3 linked regions of the Homo sapiens genome follow. The protein of the gene in region 3 purifies or fractionates together with the protein of the main gene of each other region. This does not show direct contact. Each region holds a gene or a part of one and is shown on either strand. Other genes may lie near its edges. The genes, in order: TMEM59L, PLXNA2 and PCDHB1.

Region 1 (2,989 bases), on a different chromosome or scaffold from region 3:
TATATAATATATATATATATATTTTTTTTGAGATGGAGTCTTGCTCTGTCACCTGGGCTGGAGTGCAATGGCACCATCTCGGCTCACTGCAACCTCCACCTCCTGGGTTCAAGCAATTCTCCTGCCTCAGCCTCCGAAGTAGCTGGGACTATGGGCGCGGGCCACCACACCCAGCTAATTTTTGTATTTTTAGTAGAGACGGTGTTTCACCATGTTGGCCAGGCTGGTCTTGAACTCCTGACCTCAGGTGATCCATCCGCCTCTGCCTCCCAAAGTGCTGGGATTACAGGCGTGACCCACCGCGCCCGGCCTATATATATATTTTTGAGACAGGATCTCACTCTTTCACCCAGGATGGAGTGCAGTGGCATGATCACAGCTCACTGCAGCCTCGGCCTCCCTGGCTCAAGCAATCCTCCTGCCTCAGCCTCCTGAGTAGCTGGGACCACAGTCACGTGCCACCATGCCCCGCTAATTTTTGTATTTTTTGTAGAGATGGGGACTATGTTGCCCAGGCTGGTCTTGAACTCCTGGGCTCAAGTGATCCACCTGCCTTGCCCTCCCAGAATACCGGGATTACAGGCATGAGCCACCTCACCCAGCCAGGACCTCACACTTGCTGCATGACTTGGGCCAGTTTCTTCACTGCCCTTTGAATTGGTGGGAAGAAAATCCACTCTTAGTTGGGGCGACATGAAGTCAGAGGTGGCCACACTTCTGTGGTGTTGGCCTCACCTCTATCATGCCCAGGTGTGTTGGTGACACCTCTGTGGTGCCCAGAGCCTGGGCAACATAGTGAAACCTTGTCACTACAAATCATTTAAAAATTAGCTAGATGTGGCTGGGCATGGTGGCCCATGCCTGTAATCCCAGCACTTTGGGAGGCCGAGGTGGGCGGATCACGAGGTCAAGAGATTGAGACCATCCTGGCTAACAAGGTGAAACCCCATCTCTACTAAAAATACAAAAAATTAGCTGGGCGTGGTGGCAGGTGCCTGTAGTCCCAGCTACTCGGGAGGCTGAGGCAGGAGAATGGCGTGAACCCAGGAGGAGGAGCTTGCAGTGAGCCGAGATCGCGCCACTGCACTCCAGCCTGGGTGACAGAGCGAGACTCCATCTCAAAAAAAAAAAAAAGAAAAAAAAAATTAGCTAGACGTGGAGGTGCATGTTTATGATCCCAGCTACTTAGGAAGCTGAGGTGGGAGGATCACTTGAGCCTGAGAGTTCGAAGCTGCAGTGAGCTGTGATGGCACCACTATACTCCAGCCTGGACAACAGAGAAGACCCCATCACACACACACACACACACACACACACACACACACACACACACACACAAAAGTCCAGGTGTGGTGGCTCACACCTGTAATTCCAGCACTTTGGGAGGCTGAGGTGGGCAGATCACTTCAGGAGTTCGAGACCAGCCTAGCCAACATAGTGAAACCCCATATCTACTAATAATACAAAAATTAGCTGGGCGTGGTGGCGTGCACCTGTAGTCCCAGCTACTTGGGAGGCTGAGAAAGGAGAATCGCTTGAACCTAGGAGGCGGAGGTTGCAGTGAGCTGAGATGGCGCCACTGCACTCCAGCCTGGGTGACAGAGAGAGACTCTCTCAAAAAAAGAAAAAAAATAAAACAATCAGAGGTGGGAAGGAGACAGTCAGGGTTGGGGGCTCGGCCTCTCCCCGTCCCTCCACTTCCCTCCTCCCCTCTCTTCCTGCAGCCTCTGACCCTGGAGCAGCACAAGGGCTTCATGATGGAGCCCGATTGGCCCCTGTACCCGCCGCCGTCCCACGCCTGTGAGGACAGCCTACCACCCTACAAGCTGAAGCTGGACCTGACCAAGCTGTAGGCCTCCACTGGCCCCATCACTGCCAACTGCAGGGGGCCCCTCGGGCCTCACTTGCCCTGAGCCCAGGAGTCCAAGGGCAGGGTGGGTCCAGCCTTGAGCCCCTCCACCCCCAAATCCTTCCTCTCCTCCCAGTCCCACCCCTTGCCCCACGGAGTCCTGGGGACGCAGTGCCCCAGCTGGGAAGAGGGCGGGATCGGGCACTGGTTCCTCCTTGTCCCCGCTTTCTTGGGGGCTTGCTACTTTTTGTCTTCTATTGTGTGGCTTTCTGAGTATTTGAACCCCAGTCCTGTGTCACCTTCCTTTTTCCTTCTATGTCCCCTCTCTGCGGGGGGGGCGCTGAGGCTGAGGGGGAGCTGCGTCTTGCTAGGGCTTCCCCCTTCTCCCCATCCCGGTCTCCAGAGACCCAGCTTCTGAGAGACAGGGTGTGGGCATCTCCATGCCCCTATAAAGCGTGCCTGGGGCTTGTCTGGGGCTGGGGAGGAATAAACCATGTATATAAAAGAGTTTCAGGCTGAGCCTGCTTCTGTTCGGTTGTCTGTCTGCCCTTGGGGTGTGGCCCACGCATGGCTATGACCCCTGCCGAGCAGGATCTTTCTGACATGGGAAAGCCCTGGAAACCCAGGTGGCACCAGGCACTGAAAGTAGCTGCCTCTCAGAAGGACACTCCCTCTGGTCTAACCCAGGTCACACTCCCAGCTACAGATGTCCCTGGAAAACTGACTCGAGGCCAGGCGCAGCAGCTCATGCCTGTAATCCCAGCACTTTAGGAGACTGAGGCAGGAGATTCACTGGAGCCCAGAAGTTCCAGACCGGCCTGGGGCAACATAGCAAGGCCCCATCTCTACAAAATACACACACACACACACACACACACACACACACACATATATATATATAATTAACTGGGTGTGGTGGCTTGAGCCTGTGGTCCCAGCTACTCGGGAGGCTGAGGTGGGAGGATTGCTTGAGGCGGGGAGGTGGAGGCTGCAGTGAGCTATGATTGCACCACTGAACTCCAGCCTGGGTGACAGAGCATGACTCTGTCTCAAAAAAAAAAAAAAAAAAAAGTGGCTTGTGCCACCCATCTGACTGGGGCAGTTCAGCGTCCCTTCCTGTGCCTGATGTCCCTGTTATGA
Region 2 (3,654 bases), on a different chromosome or scaffold from region 3:
ATCGCTTGAACCAGGGAGGCGGAGGTCTCAATGAGCTGAGATCATACCACTGCACTCCAGCCTGGGCGACAGAGCAAGACTCTGTCTCAATAATAATAATAATAACAAAAACTAACATAAGTTAAGTGCTCACTGTGTGCCTGCAACCATGCTAAGAGGTTGGTCTCTATATTGTCTCATTTACTGTCATGACAACTTGAAAGGTACATACTGTAGTTATTCCCATTCTACCAGAAAGGGACATGAGACTTGACTTGCCTCAAATCCCAAATTTGTTCCCAGATTCTGTCTAACAACAACAAAAGCCACTCACTATTCAAACTGTGTCTTGGGAGGATACCAAGCAGGGAGGTGAGGTGGCTGATCTTAACCGCATACTAAGTCCTTCCATGTTATCTCTGCTACCAGAACCCCCTTCCTCCCCTCGCGGCTCCTCAAGGAGGAACCACTCTCCACCTGGAACCCAAGGAGATTTTCTTCCCAGCGACAGGGGCAGAGAATGGCCTCTTGCAATTCCCCATCCAGCTGGAGAATTTAAGGATTCTGTTATTTCCTTTCCACAGCTCCTCTTCAGGAATTCACGTCCTGCTACCGGCCTCAGGACATAGCTAAAAATAACCTCTGGTTTCCAAACTGAAAGCCCTGTCTGTTGGGAGGCTTTGCCGGTGTGCGCCTGGGGCCGGAAGGGCTGTGTCGGAGTAGCTGAGGTCAGCCTGAGTCTCATGCCGGTGTTGCCTTCCTCTTTCCAAGGAAGCCCAGGGCCTCATGAGTCACCCCGAACACCCTGGGGGAGTCGGGTTGGAGGAGGGAGTTAGGTGGGACCTACTGTGGCACCACGGTGGCTGCCAGGCCGAGGATGCAGAACTGAACAAGAGGAAGGGTCGTTCCTAAAGAAACTCTAGGGGATTCTCTAAGTGGTGTCTGTTCTAATTATAACCCAATCCAGCCAGAATGGGGAGTTGAGGGAGAAAGGCCTCTCCTAAGCTGCCTTGGAGCAAACTCTCCATCCTTCGGGTGTTTCCATCCCTGCCACCTTATGTGCCCAGAGTTCTGTCTGGACTTGCCTGAGAAGGTTGCTGGATGATCTTCCAGCTGAGAAAAGCTTTCTCTGCCGGACAGCTCGCTGCCTTCTCCTGGTGCCGCAGTCACTTCCCACTGTCCCTCTCCATAAGTCAGGACAGTACCATGATAGTGATGGAACAGGCCCTGCTCTCTGACCTCCAGGTCCTGCTCTCTGACCTCCAGGCTCTGCTCTCTGACTTCCTGCCCCTGGCCCAGACTGCCCCTGGCTACAGGCTGTCCTCAGGAGCCCCACCTTGCCCCTCTGGGCAGCTTCCTTGGAACAGGGAAGAATAAGCACCAAGGCTCTGGAAGTGGAGGAGCCTTAAAGCCTGGGAGTCAGGAGGCAGGGGGAAGAGTAAAGGAGTCAGGGCTAGAGACTGGGCTTCGAGCATGGCCCACTGAGGCCCGCTGGTGATTTCATGGATGCTGAAACAGTCAGGAGGCCCCAGCAGTGCCTGAAATGAGACTGAATCTCACCTCACCACCCTTTGCTGCTCCCCACATTCTCCCAAATCTGGTACCCCTGCCCCAGGTGGCTGAAGCTGGACTCAGCCAGCCAGTAACCCCTAGCAAGGAGACTGGTTCTCTGTGTGTCCTGGCTTCCCATGTGCTCTGCCTGCAGAGAGGCAGAGGTTGAAGCAATTTCCCGAGGACCTGGCTACCTGGCAGCAGCTGGGCGTCCACCTTGAGAAGGATGGGGGAATCTCAAGAGATCTGCCTGTCTCCCGAGGGCTTTTCCGGCTCCGGAATGGCACATGTGGGAATCCCAGTCTTGTTGGCTACAACATTTTTCCCTTTCCTAACAAGTTCTAACAGCTGTTCTAACAGCTAGTGATCAGGGGTTCTTCTTGCTGGAGAAGAAAGGGCTGAGGGCAGAGCAGGGCACTCTCACTCAGGGTGACCAGCTCCTTGCCTCTCTGTGGATAACAGAGCATGAGAAAGTGAAGAGATGCAGCGGAGTGAGGTGATGGAAGTCTAAAATAGGAAGGAATTTTGTGTGCAATATCAGACTCTGGGAGCAGTTGACCTGGAGAGCCTGGGGGAGGGCCTGCCTAACAAGCTTTCAAAAAACAGGAGCGACTTCCACTGGGCTGGGATAAGACGTGCCGGTAGGATAGGGAAGACTGGGTTTAGTCCTAATATCAAATTGACTGGCTGGGTGAACTTCAACAGCCTTTTAACCTCTCTGGGAGATGAAAACGATGGCTTAAGGGGCCAGAAATAGAGATGCTTTGTAAAATAAAATTTTAAAAAAAGCAAGTATTTTATAGCATAAAGGCTAGAGACCAAAATAGATAACAGGATTCCCTGAACATTCCTAAGAGGGAGAAAGTATGTTAAAAATAGAAAAACCAAAATGCAGAAGGAGGAGACTCACAGAGCTAAACCAGGATGGGGACCCTGGGTCAGGCCAGCCTCTTTGCTCCTCCCGGAAATTATTTTTGGTCTGACCACTCTGCCTTGTGTTTTGCAGAATCATGTGAGGGCCAACCGGGGAAGGTGGAGCAGATGAGCACACACAGGAGCCGTCTCCTCACCGCCGCCCCTCTCAGCATGGAACAGAGGCGGCCCTGGCCCCGGGCCCTGGAGGTGGACAGCCGCTCTGTGGTCCTGCTCTCAGTGGTCTGGGTGCTGCTGGCCCCCCCAGCAGCCGGCATGCCTCAGTTCAGCACCTTCCACTCTGAGAATCGTGACTGGACCTTCAACCACTTGACCGTCCACCAAGGGACGGGGGCCGTCTATGTGGGGGCCATCAACCGGGTCTATAAGCTGACAGGCAACCTGACCATCCAGGTGGCTCATAAGACAGGGCCAGAAGAGGACAACAAGTCTTGTTACCCGCCCCTCATCGTGCAGCCCTGCAGCGAAGTGCTCACCCTCACCAACAATGTCAACAAGCTGCTCATCATTGACTACTCTGAGAACCGCCTGCTGGCCTGTGGGAGCCTCTACCAGGGGGTCTGCAAGCTGCTGCGGCTGGATGACCTCTTCATCCTGGTGGAGCCATCCCACAAGAAGGAGCACTACCTGTCCAGTGTCAACAAGACGGGCACCATGTACGGGGTGATTGTGCGCTCTGAGGGTGAGGATGGCAAGCTCTTCATCGGCACGGCTGTGGATGGGAAGCAGGATTACTTCCCGACCCTGTCCAGCCGGAAGCTGCCCCGAGACCCTGAGTCCTCAGCCATGCTCGACTATGAGCTACACAGCGATTTTGTCTCCTCTCTCATCAAGATCCCTTCAGACACCCTGGCCCTGGTCTCCCACTTTGACATCTTCTACATCTACGGCTTTGCTAGTGGGGGCTTTGTCTACTTTCTCACTGTCCAGCCCGAGACCCCTGAGGGTGTGGCCATCAACTCCGCTGGAGACCTCTTCTACACCTCACGCATCGTGCGGCTCTGCAAGGATGACCCCAAGTTCCACTCATACGTGTCCCTGCCCTTCGGCTGCACCCGGGCCGGGGTGGAATACCGCCTCCTGCAGGCTGCTTACCTGGCCAAGCCTGGGGACTCACTGGCCCAGGCCTTCAATATCACCAGCCAGGACGATGTACTCTTTGCCATCTTCTCCAAAGGGCAGAAGCAGTAT
Region 3 (3,754 bases):
GCCTGTTTCAGTGTTATATAAACACAACAAATACTTTAATAATGTTTTTTAAAAGTGTTACACATATTTGAAAATGAAGTCAGACTTTTGGTTGAAGAATGAATGTCCACTTAGTCACATACTTTGAAGATATTAAACTCTACAGAAAATAGCTATTTATATGGGATAATCATATGAATGAATTATGCTTCCAAGAATAAGACAAATTCATCCCTAAATGGAAAACAACAAAAAATGCACAAACATGATAAAGAAATTCTTTATTTTTAGGAGAATTACATAATATCAGACAGACCAATTCCATTTTTTGTATATCTGTAAGTCTAATTTCAGCATATAAGTCTATTTTTAAATAGTATCTCAGGTATATATAGCTTAAACTATATAAACATGTCTGCACAACAAATTTTAAAATTTTCAGTTTATATCTATTTTAAAATGTATGACTAATTTAAAATTATGTTAGTATAATTTTCATTTAAAGTTAAAACTTTATGCATGAACCTTAATGGGGTTACTTTATGATTGTTTAAAATAATCTAACATGTAGAGTTACAAAGAAATACTAATTTTGATAAAAATGTATTCTATATGGATAATTCCAGTCTTAAAAATCTGCTCTTCATCTCAGATAAAAGAGTTTGCTGAACAACAAAGTAAATGATAGGATTAGTTTGTAACCCAAATAATAGAGGAGATATCCAGGTATCCTTATGTAAAGAAATAACTAACTAAATAAGTGGGGGGGAAAGTAACAAGTTTTCCTTCCAGAAGAATTTTAATTAATGTAAAAGGAAATAGAGAAATAGAAAATCACCATTAGAATGCCACAATATTAATTGCCACAGGAAATATCTAGCAATGGATACTAAAATTGGTTTAAGCAGAAACATCATATTTGCATAGTTTCAAAGCATATCCCCCAAGTGTTTATTAATTACAAAGAGAAAAAAGTAACTTTATAGTAGAGAAACGTGGCAGACATTATGTTAACCAAGCGATCAAAATTAACATCACCTTAACATTACTTAAAAATGGCTAACATACTTAAAAATGGCTAACATGGTACATTTTATAAGTTCTTTACCACAATAAAAGAAAAAAGATTAATATCACCAGTAGTGTGACATTGGCATCACATACCTGCTGACGTGATGCACTGAAAAGGATACAATATCATTTCTGCAGTATTTTTCCCAATAATGCATTACCTCAGTTTAATAATGAGAAAACAAAGAATCCCAAACTGAGGGGCATTCTACAAATAACTGGCTAGTACTCTTCAAAAATCTCAAGTCATGATAGACAAGGTAAGAGTAAGGAACTGTCACAGGTGGTAGAGACTAAGGAGCCATAACAAATGCTTTGCAGGATCCTGGATTGGATCCTTGAATAGAAAAAGGACATTGGGGGAAAACTGTTAAATTTGAATAAGATCTGTAGTTTACTTCATAGAATTATACCAAGGTTAATTTCTTAATTTTGATAACTACTATGGTTATATAAGATGTTAGCATTCCGGGAAGTTAGGTGAAGGATATACAGGAACTATCTATAGTATTTTTGCAATTTTATGAGTCTAGAATTATTTCCTAATAAAAAGCCTTTTTGTACAAGACACTTTTCAAGGTTCTTAGGTTATAGCTTTGAATACATAGAAATAGTTATAATATCACTTGACACTTTGGAGAGAGTAATTGCCCTAATTATTTCCATTCTTTGTCTTAATTTGCTGATAGAGACCTGGACTTAATCTCAGCTGGTGTACAGAGTTCTCTCCAAAAACAAGTGGCCTACTTCACATTCAGTGAATTGATATATTCTTATTTTAAGTTATCAGGTAGGATTGGAATTTTCTTGGGAACTTGAAGTCTGAATAAAATTAGAGTGACAAAATTTTCACCTAAGGCAAAAATAAGAAAAATGGTGGCAAAATAATTTTTTATTAAATCGATACATTTTTTAAATTTAAAGGATGGTTTCTTTTATGAGATTGTTATCTTACCTTTTTTTTTCTTTTTTCTTTTTTTCTTTTTTTTTTTTTTTTTTGAGACAGAGTCTTGCTTTGTCGCCAGGCTGGAGTGCAGTGGCATGATCTCAGCTCACTGCAACCTCCACCTCCTGGGTGCAAGCAATTCTCCTGCCTCAGCCTCCCAAGTAGCTGGGACTACAGGCACATACCACCACACCCAGCTAATTTTTGTATTTTTAATAGAGACATGGTTTCACCATGTTGGCCAGGATGGTCTCCATCTCTTGACCTTGTGATCCATCTGCCTCAGCCTCCCAAAGTACTGGTATTACAGGTGTGAGCCACCATGCCCAGCCTATCTTAACCATTTTTATATTAAAATGCCATTTCGTTTATGGAATAATGGTGGCGTGAAGTGGTAGATTTTATCTCATTTAATGTGAAAAAATAAAAAGTTGACAAATCTACATCTTCTGTCCATTGTGTATGTGTGTATATATGTATTCATGAATTTCACTGCTATTTGAATATCAAAGTCTTAAAATCATGAATCTACACCATTTTCTTTTCCTATCCTTGACATTAAGCCAGTTTCCATTGATTATGTTCACATCATTAAGTGTAATGAAACACAGTTAATACAGTAGCTTTTACTTAAGCATGTTTTATTAACTAATTATTGCTTACCCATAAAAATTAATTCTAGGCTGGGCATGGTGCTGTAATCCTAGCACTTTGGGAGGCCAAGGCGGGTGGATCACCTGAGATCAGGAGCTCGAGACCAGCCTGGCCAACATAGCGAAATGCCAACATGGCGAAGCCCCGTCTCTACTAAAAACACAAAATTTAGCTGGGCGTGGTAATGTATACCTGTAGTCCCAGCTACTCAGGAGGCTGAGGCAGGAAGATCACTTGAACCCAGGAGACGGAGTTTGCAGTGAGCCGAGATCATGCCACTGTACTCCAGCCTGGGTGACAGAGCAAGACTTTGTCTCCAAAAAATAAATAAATAAATAAAAATTCTATCTCCTTTTTCATTTAAAGGAAATAGAAATTTCAGCATGCCTTCACCAATTGGAACACAAATACACTGGAACACTTATTCTATGTTTTGTGCAAGAAAACCTTTACTCTAAATCGGAATCATAACTCAATGTATGTAAAATATTTAATATTAAAAATAAAAGCAATTCATTGATATAGTGCATTTGCTTCATCTGTTCTTTAACATTTTAACATTGAAGGCAGCCATAGGTTACACCAGTTCTGCCCTAAGCATCTCTAACATCTAAAAAATAACAGCACTAAATTTTAGTGTATTCCTGGCCAACAGGTAAACAGCCAGGTGGTGCCATTAGGTATCAGTCATTAAGTCCAAGAATGAAGTTTGTATCAATAAACATGATTTGGTATATTTAAGAAGTATTTTAAAAGATAATGCTCTACCCTTAAAATACCAAGAGGATGTATTCTAGTGAGTCTGAATTTACACACATTTTTATAAAATAAGGAATATAATTAAAGCCTCATTAAAGCACACTTTTTTTTTTTTTGAGATGAGGTTTCACTCTTTTGCCCAGGCTGGAGTGCAGAAGTGCAATCATAGCTTACTGCACCCCTGAACTCCTGGGCTTGAGCAATCCTCCTCCTTCAGACTCCTGAGTAGCTGGGACTACAGGTATGAGCCACCATGCCCTTCTCTAAAGCAAACTTTTGACTTTCAAGGCACAGTTAGCAGTGTTGGGAGAATCCCTGAAATATGTTAATGTTTTAACATTGGCT

Evidence for each region.
Region 1: the proteins of PCDHB1 (region 3) and TMEM59L purify together in Homo sapiens (affinity purification with mass spectrometry; one large-scale study listed by BioGRID and IntAct). This does not show direct contact.
Region 2: the proteins of PCDHB1 (region 3) and PLXNA2 purify together in Homo sapiens (affinity purification with mass spectrometry; one large-scale study listed by BioGRID and IntAct). This does not show direct contact.

The regions. Positions count from the first base shown.
Region 1 is NC_000019.10:18,618,684-18,621,672, forward strand, and holds the end of TMEM59L (transmembrane protein 59-like precursor), read left to right. Parts: intron 1-1,724; coding exon 1,725-1,853; 3' UTR 1,854-2,356; downstream 2,357-2,989. UniProt on the Homo sapiens protein: Modulates the O-glycosylation and complex N-glycosylation steps occurring during the Golgi maturation of APP. Inhibits APP transport to the cell surface and further shedding.
Region 2 is NC_000001.11:208,216,885-208,220,538, reverse strand, and holds part of PLXNA2 (plexin-A2 precursor), read left to right. Parts: intron 1-2,536; 5' UTR 2,537-2,571; coding exon of another isoform or gene 2,572-2,616; coding exon 2,617-3,654. UniProt on the Homo sapiens protein: Coreceptor for SEMA3A and SEMA6A. Necessary for signaling by SEMA6A and class 3 semaphorins and subsequent remodeling of the cytoskeleton. Plays a role in axon guidance, invasive growth and cell migration.
Region 3 is NC_000005.10:141,055,836-141,059,589, reverse strand, and holds the end of PCDHB1 (protocadherin beta-1 precursor), read right to left. Parts: 3' UTR 244-3,754; downstream 1-243. UniProt on the Homo sapiens protein: Potential calcium-dependent cell-adhesion protein. May be involved in the establishment and maintenance of specific neuronal connections in the brain.